2 separate regions of the Homo sapiens genome follow, and region 1 is linked to region 2. The links come from fine-mapping of genetic effects on gene expression. A gene starts in region 2. The other region holds a variant in brackets. All regions are shown on one strand. Distances are between the middles of the regions.

The links. PIP is the estimated chance that this variant, and not a neighbour inherited with it, causes the effect.
Region 1: its variant is the best candidate, but not a certain one, in a credible set for the expression of PLCB3 in tibial artery (GTEx, PIP 0.70).

What each region holds. Positions count from the first base shown.
Region 1 is chr11:64,127,633-64,132,992 of GRCh38, reverse strand. The region is part of intron 3 of MACROD1 (mono-ADP ribosylhydrolase 1); the gene reads left to right. Among named protein-coding and RNA genes, the nearest start is that of MACROD1, 36 kb to the left of the region's middle. RefSeq lists an enhancer at 2,923-3,516. The variant G/C (reference allele first, on the strand shown) is at 3,119.
Region 2 is chr11:64,248,397-64,253,756 of GRCh38, reverse strand. PLCB3 (phospholipase C beta 3) reads right to left here and starts at 2,227. Exons shown (of 31, transcript NM_000932.5): 1 at 2,009-2,227. The coding sequence starts at 2,107. RefSeq lists silencers at 1,245-1,458, 1,946-2,415 and enhancers at 848-1,494, 1,495-2,140, 3,435-4,082, 4,083-4,728, 4,729-5,360.

The DNA.
Region 1 (5,360 bases), 120 kb after region 2:
GGGCCAGGACTCGGGGCAGTGGGGGGAACCCGGACAGACCTGGTTCCAGAGCTAACTCCGTCACCATTGCCTTGGGCAAGCTGCTTAGATCTGGGCCTTGGTTTGCTGGTTTTAAAATGGGAGTAAGCCAGCCTGCCGCACCTCCCTGCCGTGAGGATGAAGCTCGGTGACAGATGCCTGGCGCCTGGCACCACTGGCCCCCGCTGCCTTGCCTCTCGCAGATGGGCGCCCCTTCAGGAAATCCCCCCTAATTATGAAGTTACAGATCTGGATGGTCACATGGGGAAGAGCCACATTCATTAGGAGACCCGGGCACACAGCCTGGACTGTGCCAAGCATCTCTCTGTGCCAGCTTCCTGAGGACCGCGGGCTCAATAGAGCACATCCCTGCATCTTCCTGGTGGCAGATTCCATCTGCCAGACCCCGAGGAGCCGCTGACTGGGGAGGGCCTGCTCAGGACCCGCCCGTCCCTGGCAACTGCCCTGAAGCCCTTCACCCTGGGTTTGTAATCTCTGCTTTAAAGAGGACTTCAATCCCTTTCCCCTCCCCCCGCCCCACCCCCAGTGACCAATCCATCCGCCAGGGCCCTGATCCAGGAGAAAGCTAATTAAAGAATTTCTGCTCTTGGCTCAGCCTGGACATAGAAGATTCCCCTTGGTCTTCCTGGAATATCTGAAAACAGGTGGAGAAAGGCATCAGATAAGCCCCGGGAGCCTCCATAATAGGCTTAATCCCCCCAAAGCCAGCAGGCATCAAACAGCTCTCCTCCCGGGACCACTGAGAAAGGGCTCGAGAGCTTGGAGGACGTGGGGCTGTTCCTAACCACATCCCAGACTGTAGGTCCCCTTGTCCCCAGCTCCCCATGAATAGGAGACTGTGTTCCTCATGAGTTCAGACGGAGTATCAGCCATTTCTGCATAGTTCTCCAGAGCAGGGGAAGGTGCAGAGACCTGGCCCCAGCAGCTCCGGCATGGGGAGGCCCCACTTCCAGGGCTGCCAGCAGTCACTGTGATGACTGGCATGTAGCAGATGCTCAGTCAAGTGCGCCCCTCCCTCCCGCCACTCACTTCCCTCCGGTTCCCCCTGCCCCCCTCCTCAGCTTCTTTTCTTTCAAGGGCCTGTTTGCCTGTAGGAGATTTTCATCAACCAACCACAAATATTTACTCAACACTTACCGGCAGGCAGCACGTGAGCTCCACAGGGCAGGGGGCTCTCGGTCCCATTTGCTGCATGTTCCCCATCTGAACAGGGCCTGGCATGCAGTAGGTGCTCAATAAAGGCTTGGTTGGTAGTCACAGCCTGAAACAGGGTAGTCTCTGCTCCCAGAGAGCTTACATTCCTGCTGCCTTCAGAAAACATCCTGAGGGGCTGGGCGCGGTGGCTCACTCCTGTAATCCCAGCACTTTGGGAGGCCGATGCGGGTGGATCATTGAAGTTGGGAGTTCAAGACCAGCCTGGCCAACATGGAGAAACCCCATCTCTAGTAAAAATACAAAAATTAGCTGGGCGTGGTAGCACACGCCTGTACACGCAGCTACTTGGGAGGCTGAGGCAGGAGAATCGCTTGAACCTGGGAGGCGGAAGCTGCCGAGATCACCTCACTGTACACCAGCCTGGGTGACAGAGCGAGACTCCATCAAAAAAAAGAAAACGTCCCGAGGGTCTTTGAGGGATCATGGAGCCCCCACACGTGGGTGGGGTGAGGGTCTTAAAGCCTGCCCTCCCCGTCACTCTGAGCTATGGCCAAGCTGGGTGTAACCCTGGAGAGAGTCAGGGTGTCCTCACCCGCTTCAGGCAGCTGGCCCCCATTTCCCTCTGCAGTGCCTGGGGCGGGGGTGACAGGGAGCATTTAGACCCGCAGCTCCCTGCACAGGGACCTCCTGGGGCACTCGCCTGCATCACAAGAATAAAAATGATAAAAACCTGCCACTGAATTCTGGGTGGCAGTAAATTACTTAACACCTGAAACAGGTTGAAATGTGGCCACTGTGGTTTTAATAAGCCCATCTCCGATGCAGTGCTTCCTCGCCGGGCCGGCCAGTTCTCTTCTTGAGGCATAATTTCATCTCGTCCCAGGCTTGGCAGCATTGCAAATAAGATTTCACTTCCCCTGTAAATCTTAGAGGGAGGGAGTGCAGGATTTCATTTGTGCTGTCAGTTAGCACTCCAGAGAGCCTGTTTACTTTGCCGCAGGAGGAGAAGGTCCTCTGGAGGTGCTGGACAGGGTGGCGGGTGGGGAGGTGGCAGTGTCAGCACTGGAAGGTGACGTGGGTGCGGCGGCGGGGAGGCAGCGGCATGTGTGGGGGGGTCCTGGAAGCATGCCTTATTTGGGGTGCCTGAAAGTGGATGAGCCAATGTCAGACCCACGGAGGCAGAATTTCAGGGCCAGCTGGGTGCCCTCCCATGCGTCCGGGACCCTCCTAGGCTGGGTGATAAGACTCAGCCACAGAACTTGGGTGTGGGGGTGTGGCCTGGGGTGTTAGACCCCTCCCAGGTTCCGACGCCTCTTCTTCAGGTTGCTCGGTGAGGCCAGAGACCCCTCCTGGGAAGTAGGGGCAGGAGAAGGGAAGCTTCCAGAACCCAGTGGTAGCCAGGTAAGGGCAGTTTCCAGGTACAGGAAAGCAGCCATGGAGGGGTAGGTATCACCCACTCTCTCTCTCTCATTTGAGCAGGAGCTTTTTAGTCCTGAGTCTGACAAAACAGACGGAGTCAGATACACAAAGCCGGAGCCCCGGGACTTAAGGTGCCTCTTGGCCGCAGGGCAGCCATTCGGGGGTCTTACCCACACGTGCCCCTAATCTCAGTGATAATGCAAGTCCTGAGAGATTTGTGGGGAAGGAAAGGGCCCAAAGTGGCTTGGCTGGAGGGTGGCACGGTGGGGGGCTGCAGCAGTGGTGTGGGGTAGGTTTCTCGGGGGACCACCCCATCTCCTGGCATCCAGCTGAAGACATGGTGTCAGGGCTCTTTGGGGCCAGCAGGTCCCCTGCAGTGCCTTTGAGGCACTGGCCAGTCCTGCTTGCTTTCCTGTAAGAACGGGAGGCTCACGGCCCCCCAACCACCCGGTCCTCTTCAGAACAGGTTATGTTTGGAGGGTTTTCCTTTCATTCCTGAAATGCA[G/C]GTCCTGGCAATTCCCTCCTGTGCGGCCCAAACCTGGCTGAGCCTCCAACTCCCCTGGGGCGCGTATTAAAACCTGAGATGTCCCCCACACCCACCCCCAATCCTGAAGCCTAAGGCTGCAGCCAGCCTGTCATCCTCTTCAGCAGGCCGTGGACCTGGGATTGTTGTGGGGGTGGTTTGGGGAACAGGCCCCACCCTGTACGGTTGCCTCTCTGTGCTGGACCTGGGGGCACTTTGCTGCCTGGGTCCAAAGGTCCTGCCAAGAACCTGGGCCTCCCTGCAAGAAGTGCCAACCAGCTCAGCACCTGGCTCCATCCCTGGGGGCCAGGAATGCGGGAGAAACCCCCCAGGAGGCTGTGCTGGGGGTGGGGGAGGCCTACACTCCCCAGACAAACTGTAGGCAACCCGGCCTCCCACGCCCTCTCACAGAGGCTCCGTCACAGCCGTAGGGTTGGTGCGGGTGGTTTCTGAGCTGGGCACTCCCAGTGGCATTACCTGTGTCGTCCCACCTCACCCTCCCAACAGCAGTCGGGGATGGAGCTGTTATCATGTACGCATGGAGGTGGAAACTGAGGCACAGAGAGGATGAGTAGCACATGTGGTAACTGGCGGAGCCCATGGGTCTAACCCAATACCCAGGGACTCCAAGGCCCTGCCCCAGGAGAGCAGTGGTGTTAATCCAGTGGTTCCCAAAGGCCTGTGACCGGGAACCCTTTCTGGGCAACACCTGTGTTAGCTCCAGGGGCTGAGGAACACAGTTTGAGAACACAGCCCTTCTTCCCTAGCTTCGAGGGCTCCACAGGTGTCCCCAGATTTGTGGCGCTGCCACACGTGGGGAGGGTGAGGTAAAGCCGGGAGCAGGACTTCCTGGGGAAGGGTGGGTTCACTGGGGTTGGCAAGGGCTGTTGTGCTTGGAGAATCATCCTCCTTGTACTCACATGGATCCATGGAGTGATTGGCTGATTGATTTACTGTTTATCGACTCACTCTTCATTCCTGTTTACGGGGCCTCCTGGTGCCAGACAAGTGCCCTCTGGGGATCTGGAGGTGTGGAGGGCAAGAGCTGCCAGTCTGGGCTCAGCCAAGCGAGGCGTGGGAAGGGGTCACCTGTGCAGGTGAGAAAGGCCAGCAGAGGCGTGGGAAACCAGTGCAGCATAGACCTGAAGTCTAAGCCACACTGGGCCTGGGGGGTGTCAGGCGTGGAGGGCAGAGGGTGGGGCTGCACTGAGGCTGGAGTCTGAGGGGGGCAACGGGGAGATGGGGGGACACAGGGCCTTCCTGAGTGGGGCGCAGAAGTGGACCTGCCCTCCTGTCTACCTCAGGCGGGCGGCGTGCCAGGCCTTCCCCATTGCCTCCTAGTCCTCCTTATCCGTGGAAGCGTCCTCTGTGGAAATCTGGTTCCCCACAGAGCCTCCCCAGCCCCACCCAGGCTAGGCCCTGACTCAGCCACGTAGATTCCTCACTCCTCCATGAGGCAGGAATACACCAGCCCCAGAGCATAGCAGGCCCTCAGTCAATATCTCCTGGCTGGCTGGCTGGCTGACTGTGTTCCAGAAAGAGCCCTCGACAGCCCCAGAGAATGGGTCTCAGGTGAGGGAGTGGGCACCCCTCCTGGGCACCCACTGTGCGCTGGGTCTCAGGGAGAAGTTGGAAGAACAGCCTGGGTCCTTTCCTGGGTGGTCACACTGTGTGCCACACCTTAGAGTGGTCTCTCTTGGGCTGCTCCTGCCCTGGCAGGACAGGAGGTGAGGATGGAGGAGGAGGGTGGGGCAGAGAGCACCTGTGGGGCCCACGTCACCCCACTCAGGGCCACCGGCCACTGAGAATTAACTTTGCTTCTTTGGAATATAAGGAAAAACCCGTTAACTGTATCCAGACATGAAATCAGATCTCAGGCAGAAGTAATGAGTTCTTGTTTTATGTTAAATTTAGCAGAGACTGCTATTGTTCTCATGGAAATTTTGTTCCTTCCTGTCCCCCTCCCTTTGGGATGTGAGAGAGGCAGATGAGGCTCCAGAGCTGTGAGTGTAATGGGTACATCTAGGGGATGGGGGGCGTCTGGGGTGGTGGCATAAGCTCATGTCCCCAAACACCCGGACAGTCCCACTTTTACCCCGGAGCCACTTGGTTGCTGGAGCCTCTTCCAGGATAACCCATAGCTCCTGCTGACACATACTTCTCCATGTAGAGACCCCTCGGAGTCTACGTTCAGCTCTGGTTCAGCTCTGGGTCCCCTTGTGGT
Region 2 (5,360 bases):
AACAGCCGTGCAGCTGGCAGGGGGCAGGGAAGTGCATGCCAGCCCCATTTTCTAAGAAGGGCCCGGTCCCTGGCACACTACCAGGGCCACCCTGTGTGACTCAGGACCAGCAGCCAGAGGGGCTGTCCTCCAGGGCTTAGACTCGGCCAGGGCCAGAGTGAACAAGTGGCTACAGGTAGAACCCTCCTATTCCAGGTTCTTCCAGACAGAAAAGGACCCCACCTCATGTTGGGTGCCACCCCCAAAATGCATCTCAGTGTCTGGTGGACAATACTATTATTATCAATACATCTCATATACGCACACCGCCCCTACTGCGCACCAGGTACAGTTCTATGCACCTAGCATCTTCGAGCACACAAAGGCCTCCTAACCAGCCTAAGAGGCATGTGCTGTTGTCACTCCCATTTTACAGATGAGGACACTGAGTTACAGGGACACTTCGTAGCCTGCCCGAGATCACTGGAGCCAGGACCTGCTTGCAGGCAGTGTGGTTGCAGCGTCCTGTGACCTGGGAAGCAGGGAGCGGAGACTTCTGCCAGGCTCCCGGCTCCTGGCCTCAGCCACACCCCATTGTGGGGCCTGGGATAACTCTCTGCTTTCCAGACCTCAGTTTCCTCTTCTGGAGAATGGGGATTGCACCAGCCCCACCCATGGCAGGCTTTGCTTACAAAAGATGGGCGTTCATCTGGGAACAGAAGGCCCCCAAAATTTGGGGATGCATGGGCCTCCCCACTTCAGTGTGCTGACACCCAGCCCCAGCACTTCTCCGGATTCCCAACCCTACCCTGGGCCTGAGGCCCCCGAATGGTGTGCAGAGCGGGGAGTCTATGGGTACTGCCCCTAGTGTTTCCCTCCCACCTCTCCCCAGGGGTCTGGACCTCAAAGGCAGCCCAGGTCCCCTGCTCTCCTGCCCCAAGCCTCCGTCAGCACCCCCCACCCCACCCCCAGGGCCCTCTCCCTGTTCCCACTTCCTTATTTGGGTTTATCACAGTGGAATGAAAAGAAGAAACTTTTCCCTTCAGGCCAGCCTGGGGGGAGGGGTCTCCCCCGGCCCCTGGGGCCCCCAGGCACCCCACCTCGCACACCTGCCGCTTCAGGCCACGCCCCCATCTCCTCCCCCCAGCTCCCACGCCTACCCCGGGGCCCCACCCAGCCGGAAAAGAGCCCAGAGTCTTCCAGGCCCGTGGCCTGACTGGGAAGGAGCTGCGAGGAAGCTCAGGCCGGCCGGGTGGAGGCCCTAGGGAAGGAAGGGCCCAGGGGGCAGAAGAGGATGCACCCAGGATGGGGATGGGCAGCCGAAGGTGGGGACACAGGCATTTGGGAAGCACCAGGGGCAGGACAGGGAAAGGGGGGCCAGGATGTATTGGGGTTCAAGGTCCCAAGCCTAAGGAGTGGGGAGCAAAGTTCCCAGGGGTGGAGGAACTTGGGGGGCAAAGTCTCCACTAGGGGGTGACTGGGTGCTCCCATCTGAACAGGGAGCTGGGCTGGGATCCAGAAGCAGGGCGAAGGGGTGCCAACCAGAACAGGGGGAAAAATGATGAATGGACGAGGACTGTTCAGGCAGGGCACCGGGGAGAGTAGGGGCGCCCTGGCACACACCCAGAATGAGGATGCCCCCAGCCAGCCTGGAAGTCAGGGTCCTGCAGCCGGGGAGTCTAGTGCTGGGCAGGGGTCTGGGCACCAGGCCAGGATCGGGGAACGAGAATTAGTCTGGCAGGGAGCGGTGGGAAGAACGAATGGAAAACGGGGGGACGGGGTTTATTGGGGTTCAAAGTCTCTGCGCCAAGGAGTGGAGGCAAATTTTCCAGAGCTGAGGGACTGGGAGTTGGGGGGACAAAGTCTTCATTACGGAGACGATCGGGGACTTAAGTTTCCGGGGCGCCGCCAGACTGGGATGAGGGTGGCGCCACGGGCAGGCGAGGCTGGGGTGGGGGTCCCCAGCGTCTGGTCGAGCTTGACTGAAAGAGTCCCGGGATTTGGGCGGAGCAGGGGCCCGCGCGCTTACCTCGTCCCATTTGATGAACTTACTCCCGCGCCGCAGGGTCTCCACCACGGTGGGCGGCTCCAACTGCAGCGCGTGGACGCCGGGCTGGGCGCCCGCCATGGCCCGGCCAGGGGCGGGTCGGGGACCCACGGAGCCCTGACGGGGACCGACGGCGCCGCTGCTCCCACCGCGCGGCCCGCTCCGGCCCCGCGGCGTCAGTGCCCGCCCGCCCGCCAGTCTGTCCCGGACCGACCAGAGCCTCGGCGGGGCCCGGGCGGGGCGGGGACGGGGCGGGGCCTCCCGGGCCCCGCCCCCTCCCACCGCGTCGGCTCCCCCTGGCGGCCGGGGCGGCGACTGCAGCCGGAGCGGGGATTGGGGCAGGGGCACGCGGACGGGTCGGGGGCTTTGCTGCGGGGCTCAGCAGAACCTGATTCTTCAGGCCTGTGGTGGAAGGAGGGCGCTGGGGGCCGAAGTGGCTGTTGGGGAGCAGCTGGAGGGACTGGGTGTAGAGGGCGCTGCTTAAGGCGGTCCGGGATCAGCCCACTGAGGTTTCCGAGCGACTAGGGCTGCAGTACCAGCGGAGGGCTAGACTTGGGCCGGGGGGTCGCTGCACAGCCCTGTCGCCCACCCTCTTCTGCCGCACTTAGCTGAATGCAGGAAAAGCTTCTTCCGCCCCCCTCTGCCCTGGCTTCGCCTCACCCACTCTTATGCCGCGCGGTCCCCCCTCCCTGGGAGCACTTAGCCGGCTAATGGACCTCCCGCCGGCAGGCACCCCTCCCCCGTCCCTAGCCCAGGGAGGCCGGGCGCCTGCCACCTCCTTTAAGGACCCAAGCATCCTGGTCTTCGAGAGTGAGCCCTAGAACAGCCCCCTTCTTGTTGCTGCAGACTCCCATGACTGGAACCTGACTGTGAGCCTCTTGGCTGGGAACCGCGGGGGGAACGCTGTTGTCTGCCCAGAGGGGTCAGAAGCTTTGTGGATGTCCCCAGACAGGAGGGTTGAGGAGGGGCTCTGCAGTGCCTGGCCCACAGCAGGTGCCCTGAAATCTGCGTTCCAGAGATGGGAGCGGGGAAGGCGCATGGGCAATGGGATGGGTGGGGGCTGCAGCCCCTCCCGCAGGGCTTAGCTGGTGGGGGGGGTTCCTGCCTGGGGGCCCCTGTGGGAGCCCCCCCAATACAGAGGCAGTAACAGCAGCAGGTTTAAAGTAGAACTCATCCAGAGGGGCCAGCCAAGTCACCTAGAAACCCAGAAAGAGATGCAGCTGGCTCTGGGGGAGGAGGGGTCAGCAAAGGAGGAGCTCCCCTGCAGGCCCCTTTGCCCCAGGCTCTGAGACCTCCACAAGGAGCCCTGCCTGGCCCTGGCCTTCCTCCACACCCCGCCAAGTTCTCCATCAACTCTAACCTGGCGGATCTCCTCGCTCTCAGCCCTGGCCCTGTGGGGTGTGATTATGATCTCCACTTGAGGCCCAGAGAGGGGAAGGGACTTGCCCAAGGTCACACAGCTTCTTAGGAGGATTTCAACCCTCCGACTTCCTGAGGCCCAGGAGCCTCTAGACCTCATTGGGAAAACAGAACCATGCAAGGTGGAGCTTGGCCTCTGCCCTCACAGGCTGGAGTTCAAATCCGGCTCTTGCTAGCAGCCTCTTGCTAGTGGCAGAACCTAGTCTCTCTAGGTGCCTCAGTCACCTTGTCCAGAACCTAAAGGTTGTTGTATACATAAGCAAATGGGTGGGAGATGCCAAATTGACATGAGTAGCTGGAAGCTGTGGGTATACCAGGGAGGGAGGAAAGGGCATAGGTCAGCTCTGGGGCAGTGGAACCTCCAGCTTGTGCCAGGGCTAGCAAAGCCTGGAGCCAAGGCCTGAGCTTAGGGGATCTGAGCTGTGGGCCCTAGGCCTTGTGCAAGCGTACTTTAGAGAAGCATTGGGCAGCAGCTCCTTGTGGAAAAAAACAGGATGGGCACCTGTTTCCTGGGCTTAAGCCTCTCTCCTCCCCCAACCCTGTGTCTCTGGAGGCCAGGGCAGCCCCCATTACAGGGCTCCTTCCTTCCCAGACACTTTCTTCCATCCTTGGTAATGGTAATAGGGTATCTCAGCAGGCAGTAATGGTGAAGGCAGGCAGCCTTTCCGGACTCTACCCTTGATTGAAGGAGCGGTCTTGACCCACAGGACCCTCCCCAGAGCCTCTGCTTCAAGGATGCACTCTAATGGAGGGGGGCTGGGGCCCTGGAAGGGGTAGGGCTGGGGAGGCCACAGACTGAGGCTAGAAGGAGGAGGAGCAGTGGTACACTCCAGTCCCAGTAGGGCTCAGGCAGGAGGGCCAGGGCTGGGCATGGGCCCCCAACCACAGGAGGTCAGGACCATAAGCCCCCTGAAGAGGCTCTGAGCAGGTAAGTGACTTGCATACAGCCTCTCAGCCCATGGGGCAGAGCCAGGATTTGAACCCAGTATTTCTACTCCAAGGCTAAGGTTCTGTGGCCCAGCTTCCAAGAAGGTGGCAGGCCAGCATGCCCACCTGCACCAAGTGGTCTCGGGTGGATAGCCATGGGAACTGGACAGGAATCTGGGTGTGCCTGGGCATGGCGCGGTGGGGGGAAGAGGGAGAGTCAGAAAGAATGCCTGACCTGTGGACACGGACATGGCTGGAGACCTTCACACCAACCCTGAGGGAGGACAGACAGAAAGGTCAGGGCTCAGGGTCACAGCATCTTGGGGGCAGAGCTAGGGCTGGGGGTCTTCATGGCCTGCAGGCCCCACTTCCACAGAAGCTGTTGGGCATTAGGGGCTGTTTGAGGGTCTTCCCCCTTTAATCTGTGTGCACCCTCAAGGTACAAACAATGCTTGGGTTCAGAGGGAGCTGGCCTGGCCTGGTGGGGTGTGGTGGGGAATTTGGACTGGGGTAAAGTGATCCTCCTATCAGGCCAGGCTTAGGGCAGGAGGCCAGGCCACGGATAGGGCTCCCGGTGGAGAGGGTGGATCCTACCTAATCCGCAAGAGCGAGGGTCAGCCCTTCCTCGGCACCCAGACTGGCTGAAGGGAGGCTGAGGCCGGAGGAGGGGCACGGGAAGGGGAGGGGTCAGCTCACTCTACCCTTCCCTGAACTGAGCCCTGTGAGCCCATTGCCTTCACAATGCCCAGCCTCTGTCTTCTCTTGGTCTCTTCTCTCTGACTATAGGGCAAAGGAGGAGCCCAACATCCTGGGTTGGAGTTTGGATGCAGCCCCAGCTGTGTGACCCCGGGGCCAATCCCAATCCATCTCTGAACCCCACCCGCTGCAGAGGGCTTCCCCCCACAACATCCAAAGAGTGTCTTTGAGGGGCTGGAGCAGAAACATTGCCTCTCAGATCCAAGACCCTGTTTGGGGTGGCACAAGGTGA